Linked DNA regions of Homo sapiens: region 1 is linked to region 2. The links come from fine-mapping of genetic effects on gene expression. A gene starts in region 2. The other region holds a variant in brackets. All regions are shown on one strand. Distances are from middle to middle. Region 1 overlaps CEP41 (centrosomal protein 41). Region 2 holds the start of CEP41 (centrosomal protein 41).

What was found. PIP is the estimated chance that this variant, and not a neighbour inherited with it, causes the effect.
Region 1: its variant is fine-mapped to the expression of CEP41 in blood mononuclear cells (TOPMed, PIP above 0.99). The same link has a PIP of 0.9 or more in NK cells.

Annotation. Positions count from the first base shown.
Region 1 is chr7:130,392,351-130,397,728 of GRCh38, reverse strand. CEP41 (centrosomal protein 41) reads left to right here. Exons shown (of 11, transcript NM_018718.3): 11 at 1-3,958. Among named protein-coding and RNA genes, the nearest start is that of CPA1, 15 kb to the right of the region's middle. RefSeq lists an enhancer at 2,988-3,047. The variant G/C (reference allele first, on the strand shown) is at 3,133.
Region 2 is chr7:130,438,770-130,444,147 of GRCh38, reverse strand. It overlaps CEP41 (centrosomal protein 41), which reads left to right and starts at 3,132. Exons shown (of 11, transcript NM_018718.3): 1 at 3,132-3,214. The coding sequence starts at 3,182. It overlaps LOC105375505 (a long non-coding RNA gene), which reads right to left and starts at 2,394. Exons shown (of 3, transcript XR_927973.3): 1 at 1,460-2,394; 2 at 1,259-1,378; 3 at 922-1,045. RefSeq lists an enhancer at 2,692-3,446.

The sequences.
Region 1 (5,378 bases), 46 kb after region 2:
GAACTCTGAAATCAGATGGAAAAGAGCGGTGTTAATTTTTATGGTCTGTGATCGTAGCTGTGATAAGGGACTGAGGAATAAATTGTGCTCTTTGTCATGGCAACCAGCTTCTGAAAAGCCCACTGAAAATTGCCTGTCCTGCTGGTAACTGCTACGGGGTAAGATTTGCCTTAACAGTACTATTTTCTCGCCACCAAAAAAAAAAAAAAAAAAAAAAAAAAATGCACCACAGTATTTCTAGCATGGGGGCTGTGTTTGTATGAGAAATAAACGTAATAAATATCTCATAGAGACATATGGAAAAATAACTTTCAGATTCAGCCCAGTTCTGTTTTAGAGTGTGTTTATTCTTCTCTACTTGATTTCCAAAGTGCAACATTTTCCGATGCTTTAGAAATCAAACAAACCAGGGACATTGTTCAGATGTCAAGCCATGCCCAATTTTCCACAAGATTCAAGAATCTTGTATAAAATTCAGCCAACGTACACATAGCTTTAATGAGGAGCCTGTCATGTTTCCCCATAAATTTATTGCCTGAGAACTTAGTTCAGCCTTTGCTAATGCCAAAATGCTCTGGCTTTGTATTTTCTTTACAGCATAGATAGAAAAATGCACATTTTTCCACACTCAGCTTTCCCCTAGCATGGACAAGATTTTCAGCCATTTTTGCCACATATACATTTTTAAGGAAAAAAGATTTTTCTCTGTAAGAAAGTTCTGGTTATGCTGTTTTAAAGGTGACTTGTCAGGAGTTGAGACTTCCCTGCCGGATTCTATTTTGAAAGTAAATGGTCTTCCCTCCTTGTTCCGATTCTGCGTTCCCATCGTCAGACAACTTTGGAGTATTAGAAACCACTGTATATATGTGGAAAGCCAGGTCAGCCAGACCTGTTAGAATTGGTGTGCACTCACCTGAGAGATCTGGCAGGTTGGATATATTTATGTGTATTTCTCCACAGTGCTTGCTTTGCCCTGTTGGTAAGGATTTTAAATAACCATGCTCAAAAGAGCTGTTCTAATCTGCGTTTTGCATGTTAAGTGTTAATATCAAACATTCTTTACGTGCTCGAGGTATTGCTTTTAACATTCTACTTTGCCAGTTTCTTCATTAGATTAATTGACATGTATTATTTAAATGACCAGTGATGCTTTGTGCAATTATGAATGTTGAAGATTAAAGTACATAGTTACTAATTTGTCGTTTGCTATTAATATGCTGAAAACTGCCAACTTCTCTCTTCTTTTCTGTCGAGATGATTTGGGGGAGCCACAGGAGACTGGTGTGATTTTTGCTGCATCTCCTAGGAAAGCATTTTTTAAAAAAAATAAATGAATCAGGAAATCAGTCCAATTAGGGCAGGGGGCCTCAGCTCTCCAGTCAGAAAGCCTGGATTTCTTTTCCTGCTCAGGCTGGGACTGAAGCCACCTTCAACAACTGGATCATGGCTTCCTACCAGCGTCTCAGGGGTTGACTAGCTGCCCTTGTCTGGGGCTTGTGAACCCTGAGACAGAAGGTGCTTCATCGATGTACAACTACAGCACCCTGAACAGCAGTGATGGCCAAAGTTTAAATAATACCTTAAATGCTTTAAAGGGGTTTGTGTTTAAGGAAGGGAGAAAAGAAAAAAAGAAAGGAAGGGAGAAAGAAGCAAGGAAATGGGAAGAAGGGAGGGCAGAGAGAAGAAAAGAAGCAGAAAGCGAGAGAGAAAGGAGAAAGCTACATTACTTATTTGAAAACAAAAGGAACACCCTGGGCTGTAATAATGTCAGGCTCAATCTCTTGAAAAAGTATGGAATGATTTAAATGGCCTGCATTCATTTTATCTTTTATCTTTTTTTTTTTTTTTAACCTTTAGTGGTTAGCCAGGACCAGCACGATCATATTGGGCTTGGTATAAATCCGAATGAAAAGAGACCAAATAACATTCATTAGTTGCTCAGGGATTTTTCCTGTGGTGCTATTTAAATTATACAAAAATTCTTAAGACTTTAGGCTACTCGACCAAGAAAACAGAACAAAACAAAAAATCGTGTTTTCTCTAATTCCCTTGTGGAATGTAAGTGAAATCAGAGTCCTAGGCTAGGAAGAAATACGTAGGTAATTTTTCTTGTGTTGGTTTTGGTTTCTGTCATGTTGTTTATTGGCTATAGATTCTGTCTTTTATGTTATCTGACTTTTTTAGAGCGAATAATTAGTTTCTGTCCACCTGGATTTAAATCCATGACCACCTTCTTGCTCTACTCTGAAGATAATCAGTAAGAACCTTTCTTTCTCCAGTTCTAAAACGTTCTCAGTGTCTTTAATGTGTGTTTATTTTCTTCCCAATTCTTTCAAAGATTTAACTCCCACGATACTTTTTTTTCCCCAGGAAACACCGCAAATGTGTGGAATATAATTCACCAGTTTAATTATGTGAGCATGTTGAGTACTTACATGCAGGTCCATTAATTTTTCACTAACAATTATTTTTTCATGCAAAAGCAATAAATAACATTGTGCTTCCAAAATGTTCAGAATACATTTGGGTAGTAATACTTTCCTAGATTTACAATAATTATTGAAATTATTATTATGACATCTTTAAATGGATACACAGGTCAGTTACAACATAAAAAATGTAATGGTGGAAATTTGTCAGCCTTGAATTCAGGCAGAACAGGATTCGGTGCATGATTTTATGTGTTTTCGAAACGGTGTCTGTCACATTGTGATCCCCTGATGGCTCCCCTCTCTGTTGCTGATCCTCTTTGTTCTGTACAGAAGCAAATTCTCACCTGTGTAACATCCTGAAGCACCTGGTAAAATGTGAGGCAAAGAGAGGCCACTTCTCAAATGCTGTGGACGGATGGGCTGCATCTTTTAAAGGATATCAATATGTCTTCCTGTTGCAATTATTTTGACTATAAGCTCCCAGAGAGTGAAAATCACCAACCCTGTGACAGTGGCCCTTAATAAGTGTTCATGAATAAATGAATTGAACCTGTCAAGATTGAAGTTTGGATGTGATGCCCACTGTGGTGGCCACTCAGTGCTAGTCTGTCATTCTGGAGACCCAGAAAGCTCGTTATCTTCTGTCCCCCTTGTGTATCCTGCCTTTGTGGGCGAGGCATTCAAAACCCTGAGGTTTTTA[G/C]ATCTCCCTCTACAGGAAGTACCCAGAGAGCTGCTGGGGGTGTTATTACCCTGTCTCTGCCAGGCTTAAAGTATCCTCCCAAATTCAGCACGCAAAGGTCACACACCACCCCCATCTTAAGAGTAGGTTTTCTCTTTTGTTTCAAATCTTGAAGATTTCCAGAAAATAATAATACTAGCCAATGTTTGTGGAGAGCTTACTTTGCTCCTAGATTCTTCATTATATGTTTTGACCCATTTAATTTCCACAACAGTCTGATGAGGCAGGCACCCCCATTTTCAGATGAGGAGACTGAGGTTCGGGTAGAAATTAAGTGACTCAGGTTTGCCTTCAGTCTCTGACCAAGGGTTTGAAAAGCCAGGAGCCAGCCTGAGAACTGTGGCTCCAGAGGGTGTTCTTTCAGCCACTCCGCTCTATGCTTCTCACTCTGGGTGGGCACAACCATGTTCTCCTTTGGTGATGCCTCTAACTTACCGTGAAAATGTACCTTTCCCTTCGCTATTGGCTTCCCTTCCCTCCTAGTCAGCCGAGATTCTTTTGAAAACTTTCCTCCGCTTGCCTGCACAAAAGGCGATGGAAATTCAGGAACTGAAACATCTGCTCTGGGGAATGCGTATTTCCACATTTCCACCGCCTGTGTCTGCTGTCTTATCTTGAAGACAGGTGCTCCAGGGCTTCCGAGGTTATTTTGTCTGTTAATGGACACCTTGCAAAGTACCACTTAAGGAATGAGAATTACAAACTTTTAATTATATTGTAGGGGGAAAAAAGTAGGCTGTTTTCCTGATAGGTCTAGCCATTCATTCAGTAAACCATATTGATATGATTTGTGCCTGATCTTTTCTTTCCTTTGTGGTGATGTTTCTGATTTCGGCTGAAACATAAGTTGCATGAATTGGCGATGGCCATAGGCCTGAGTTCCCGGGGGAAGCAGAGGCAAACCTCCTTGCCCCAGTCCTTGTCAGCAGAGCCCTTATTCTACTGCACTCTTCTAAAAATGTAGCCAATACCACTACTGTGGTTAAGCAGAAGACTTTCCATTTTCTCCTTTTAGTTTGGCAATAAACATTTGGCAATCCCAGTCTCTGAGGTTGTTGGATGATGCTCAGTGTTTGAGTTGCCAAATTAATGCAGATCCTGAAAGCTTTGGGGAATAATTCATTACCCTTTGACAGTTTTTTAGATTTGACGATGCATGCTCTGTGCTTTTCTGAGAGCTTCTCCTTGATTTGGCCAATTTGAATGTTACGGTTAGTCATATCAGCTTCATCTGAGTAGCATCTGGGTCTTAGTGTGTTCACAGAATGATGTTGCTGTAGTCCTTAAAGCAAGAGTCCCTGTGCATCTTCAAATCCACCTCATCCCACTCGCCCTTGCAAAACAATTGCCAGGGTGATGAATCGCCCCGCACTGGATGAAGGACCAGTGAGGTCATATCTGGATTGTATTCAATGACATTCCCATTTTAACTTTAGGCCAAAGACAGAAAGCTAGCTGTGCATATCTGAGTGTTAATTCAAGAGGCTACCCTAAGGATTCTCATAGATCACCAATATTGGGCCCACAGGCCATTAGAGAACCATATGTAATGGTCTGAGTAAAAAGTAAAATGAGTTCATTTGAAAATAAAGATTTTCAAAGGCCCTGGGGAATAGGCATTAGCATAATCAATTCCCAAGATAGCTACAAGAACTGAATGTGAGCAGGAAGGGGTTTTGGGAATTTTCATCAAGCTACAACAAGGGGTAGGATGGGGAATGGCCCCCAACTGCATGAGCTGAGTAATCTCTTCCTTTGGTAGAAACACTGCTGCTTCCAGCTGTATCTTGGAGTGTGAATTTTTCTGAAGATAAGACAAACTGCAGCGTTCCGGGCAAGATGATGAAACATTATACCGGAGCAGAAAAAAATGAGTTTAGACAAATCAAAAGAATCTGAGTAAAAACTAAGATGGCCATTTAGCTGTTTGATGTTGATAATACACCGATGTTAGGTAACTTTACACACATGTTATCTACTGTGTTCGAAATAGCTCCCTTCACTCCCTGCCCGTTATAAAAGCTGATTATAGAAGCTCATTGCGAGAAATGCTGAGAAGCATAAAAAGGAAAACTACCACCACCACTACCCAGGTTAATCATTATTATTATTGGGGGATATATCCTTCCAGGAAGAGAAAGAGAAGGAGAGAGAGAAAGCATGTTTGTGTGTGTGTGTGTGTGTGTGTGTGTGTGTGTGTGTGTGTG
Region 2 (5,378 bases):
AAATCAGGATTATATTAAATAAAAAGTTGTTTCTTGCTCTTTTCATCTACTGTATCAGGAACAGTTCTCCACTGCCTTAATTATGCCTTGAAACATACTTTTAAATGATTCCATAAGATTACTTTGTATAGATATGCCAGCATTTATTTTAATCATTTTTAAATTGATGATCAATTAGATTGTTTCAATTTTTATCATTTTAAATATACTTCCAGTAAACATCTATGGATGTAATGTCTGTACATTTGTCCAATTATTTCCTTAGGAGGAATTCTTAGCATATTAAGATTTGAGGACTTCTCAATACCTACTCTCAAATTATTCTTCAAAATGATCATGCTCCTTTATATTCGCACTAACAATATGTGATCATGTTGTTTCATGAATCATTAGCCAGCACTAAGCATTATTGTTAAAGAAAAAAACTTTTGTACATTTGATAGTTGAAAAATGGGATCTAGTTATCTTGCTCTGTATTTTTTTTTTTTTTTTTTTGAAACGGAGTCTCGCTCTGTCGTCCAGGCTGGAGTGCAGTGGTGTGATCTCGGCTCACTGCAAGCTCCGCCTCCTGGGTTCACGCCATTCTCCTGCCTCAGCCTCCCGGATAACTGGGACTACAGGCACCCGCCACCGCGCCTCGTTAATTTTTTGTATTTTTAGTAGAGACGGGGTTTCACCGTGTTAGCCAGGATGATCTCAATCTCCTGACCTCGTGATCCGCCAGCCTCCCAAAGTGCTGGGATTACAGGGGTGAGCCACCGCGCCCGGTGCTCTGTGTTTTTTTGATATGTTTATTGGATGTTTTTCTTTTATCAGTTATCATTTTGTACCATTTGCCTATTTTTTACAAATAGAGACACGGTCTCACTGTGTTGCCCAGGCTGGTCTTGAATTTTTGGCCTGAAGTTATCCTCCTGCCTTGGTCTCTCAAAGTGCTGGAATTACAGGCGTGAGCCATTGCCACCACCATTTGCCTATTTTTTCAAAGTAAGCACTTGGCGTTCGTTTTGATCCAGTTTTGGCATAGCAGGATCCAAAAGGAATCCTAAAGAGAAATACATGATGTTAAAAGTCTTTTGGTTTATAGCTTTAAGCTTTCCAAGGATTCCATTGAGGCCAAATGTGAAGGAAAGGGGTGACTCTTTTAAAGGAGAGTCTCCTTGGACCACAACACCCCCCGCTCCCCACCCGCCGGCCAGAATCAGAATTGAGGGATTGGGGAGGGAACATGTATTTAAATTACCCCACCCAGACACACAGACACACAGTCAGTTGGATCCAAGAACCAGCCGGGTTCTATAATCTCTCTATAATGCTTCCTGTGCAGTCCAAATGTGACAACCACGATGACTAGTGAGGCAAGTAAACCAGATGTTCTCTGGAACAAAAGAGAGACAACCGTACAAAGAAGTGAGCCAAAACACTGAAGAATGGAAGTTGAATGGACTGTTGGACCTACTTGTACTTTCTGCTGTTTTGGCTTTTTGACTGTTGTTCTTTAACTTGATTAATGCATTATCGCCCATCTACTCAGTTCCTCAAGTTAGAGAAACTATAGCCATCTTTGATGAATTTCTATTCCTTGCACCCCTTACCTCTTCTCATGTATACTATTGATTTTACCTACACGTCTTTAAATCTCTCCTTTTCTGTCTTTCTCACCACCTCTGAGTGTAGTCCCCTATCATCTCCCTCTCTCCTTTCCCGTTATTCTATCCATAATCTCTATGGTTACCCACAAGGTGCACCAGGTAAGCATACATTCTAAATACTAATGAATCTAGAAGTTTCTGCTTGCTATGCAAAAGCTTCTAGATTAACATTCTTCCCTCTGCCTCCTTCCAATTTTTTGCAGCCTTCAAACCCTTCCTTAGCAGAGGAGTGAGAGACTGAGAATTTTAGAGGGGTTAAAGAACTGGCAAAGATTATGGAAATTAAGACAAAACTTAATAAACATGAAAGAGTGACATGAAAAGTCCAAGAAGCAGCTGTGGCCAGAATTCAAAATTCTGGTCAAGCAGCACTGACTGGCAACATGATCCAAGGTGTAGCCCTAAGGTTGGGTTGCTGAAGTGCCTAAGAGAACAAGGGCATGTGAGGCCATGTTGTTGAATGGGTCATCTCACAGACCCTGAAGTAGCTCAAATGTGTGCTATTATTCACTAACAGACAACTGGCGAGTATGAACTGCTCAGAGTAACCTTTCTCCATTCCTGGAAAAACAACTTAGAGCAAAGGACAAAGGGTTACTGTGTTGTTCCTTTCATGTAAAAGGAAATAATAATTTTGATGGATTTGGTGGGACATTTAGGAGCCAAGTCAAACTGTGTGTGTAATTGTTTTGTAAAGGTGCTAGGACTTCATTTTCAGATCCGGAATGGGAACAGGTGGTGGCTGGTGGCAGGAGTCACAATGGTTTCCATGACGACGGGATTGGGTCCTAGTCATCCTCCCATTCTCCACAAGACCTACTGCAGCTTTTCTCATAAGGTGCTTATTAAGTATTTGTTAAATGAACGATGAACCACAGAATAGCGCGTGTGCTTTGCAATTAAGGATGTCGCTCTATAGCTAGCCTAAAAGCTTTTAAAGCACCGATAATTACTGTATTTACCCATGTATTTTGCATAATTCGCATATTAACTTAACCAGAAAATAATAAACCATACTCTCCCATTTCTGCTGAACAACCCTGGCCCATATAATATTCCCTGTTGTGGAATCAGTAGCCCAGATGTTTGGTTGAAACGGCCATAAAACGGAGCTGGGGGATGGGGAGTCTTGTGTTGTATTTATGGTTCCACATTAGCTAAAACTCGTGTTTTGTCCCGGCTCTCAAGCCACTGCCCCCGCCCCCGGCTTTGCGCAGGCGCCAGCCTTCCCCTCCCCCCGCGCCTCTCTTCCCGCCCTAAGGCTGGAGCCGGCGAGCCCCAGCCCAGAGAACAAAAGGCCTCGCTAGCCGGCGTCCCGCGTTGCCCTTGGCAACCATTGAGCGGCGTCTTGCCCTTCTGCGACCCTGAGATGAGAGAGTAAACGGGGCCCCCATTGGCCGGCCGGGGAAGACGGGCCAATCGGAGAAGAGGGTATAGGGAGGCGGCTGAACAAGGTTGTGGGGGTAGGAAGCTAGGGTTAGAGGCAACCCGTGAGGCTAGAACCCCGAACGTGGTCGGTTGGAGAAAATATGTCCCTCCGGAGGCACATTGGGAACCCTGAGGTGAGGGCCAGGTCTCGGCCGGAGAGCCGGAGGGGGCGGGCGCACCGGAAAAGGCTCATGTGGGCAGGGAAGAGCAGCCAGCGACTTCCGCCGCCCGGAAGGCGGGAAGGGGCCGGCGTGAGGAGGGGTCGGGATGCAGGGGCGGGGCGGGCCGGGCTTGGGGGCCGCGGGGCAGCGTTCAGGACCCCGTTTTGAGGAGCGATCTCTCCCCGCGTACGCACGCCAGTACTTGTGACTGCGAGGAGCGAAGTACCCAAAGACACAGCCCTTGCCCTCAAATGGCTTACAGTCTCGGAGTGACAGTTACAAAACAGAAAAGACAAAGGAAGCGCTGCACACTAATGGCACGTGTTGAAAGCCAGCCAGCATCTCTGATTGTGGGGATACAGGAAGAGCAGGAGTAAGCTGACCAAACCTTTGGAAAACGGGCAAAATAGGACATTAGGCTTACCCCTCTCTCCATAGGACCCTTCAGTTTCTTCATCTGTTTCACCGCTAGTCCCCTGCTGCATTTGTGGCAGTTTCAACAAACGTTATTGGAAACTTCCACGGTGCAGTAGGTGCTAGACGTACAAAGAAGACAAGGCCTCTGCCCTTTAATAAATTGCGTATAGTGGACCAGGCGCGGTGGCTCAGCCTGTAATCCCAGCACTTTGGGAGGCCGAGGCGGGCGGATCACGAAGTCAGAAGTTTGAGACCAGCCTGGCCAACATGGCGAAACCCCGTCTCTACTAAAAATACAAAAATTAGCCGGGCGTGGTGGTGAGGCGCCTGTAATCCCAGCTACTCGGTAGGCTGAGGCAGGAGAATCGCTTGAACCCAGGAGATGGAGGTTCCAGTGAGCCGAGATCGTGCCATTGCACTCCAGCCTGGGTGATAAGAGCGACTCTGTCTCAAAAAAATAAAAATAAACAATAAATAAATTGCGTCTAGTGAAGGAGCCTGTGAACAGAATTTGAGTACAGTGTGGTCGGGGAGCAAGATGTTACGAGAAAATAGGTAGTACTCAACTGAGGGAGTGAGAGAAGGGTTGTGGAGATGGAAGGGGTGGCAAGGCCATTCATTAGCCAGGTGAAGCATCATCCCGGGTAGAACAGCCCAAGTGAAGGTAAGGAGTGTGTGAACTCAGAACAGGCCCCTGTAGGAGTCCAGGCTTTCTCTGCCTTGCTGAGGTTCTTAGCCTTTATCCCAAATAGGAGTTGTAACTGTTTCATCTCTTGGTGGCTGCCTGGTACTAGGCTGAGAAAGCTGTAAGGCTGAGTCTAAGCCCTGCAAGAGAGCCATGGTCAATTGGTAATGTCTAAATGCTGCATGATCTCACTTATACGTGGCATCTTAAAAAGTCCAGCTCATAGAAGTAGAGAATAAAATGGTGGTTACCAGAGCCTGGAGGGTGGGGGGAAGGAGGGCAGAAATGGGAAGATGTTGATCCAAGGGCACAAAGTTACAGTTAAACAGGAGGAATGGTTTTTGAGATCTCTGGCACAGCATGGTGACTATAGTTAATAATAATTACAGCAGACTCATAACCCCCAGTAGAAAATCCATGTACAACTTTTTACTCCCCTCCCCCCTGCAAAAAAACTTAACTACTAATAGCCTACTATTGACTGGAAGGCTTCCTGATAACAGAAACACTTGATTAACATATTTTGTATCTCATATGTATTATGTACTGAATTCTTAAAGTAAGCTGGAGGAAAGATTATTATTAAGAAAATCATAAGGAAGAGAAAATATATTTACTATTCATTAAGTGGCAGTGTATCATCATAAACATCTTCATCCTAATTGTCTTCATTGCTAAGGGGCAAGGAAAAGGAGGGGTTGGTCTTGCTGCCTTAGGGGTGACAGAGGCAGAAGAAAATCTGGGTATAAGTGGATCTGCACAGTTCAAGCCCATGTTGTCCAAAGTTCAACTATATTGTAGATTTCAAAATAGAGTAAATTGTATATTTTATGAGAGTAAATTTCAAATATCTCACCTCAAAAAAAAGATAAGTGGGTTGATGGATATGTTAATTTGATTTAATCATTCCACATTGTGTGTGTGTGTATATACCAAAACATCAAATTGTACCCCATAAATGTATAAAGTTATGATTTGTCTATCAAAATATTAATAAAAATGTTAATATTGTGTATCATGGGGGTGGGAGAGATA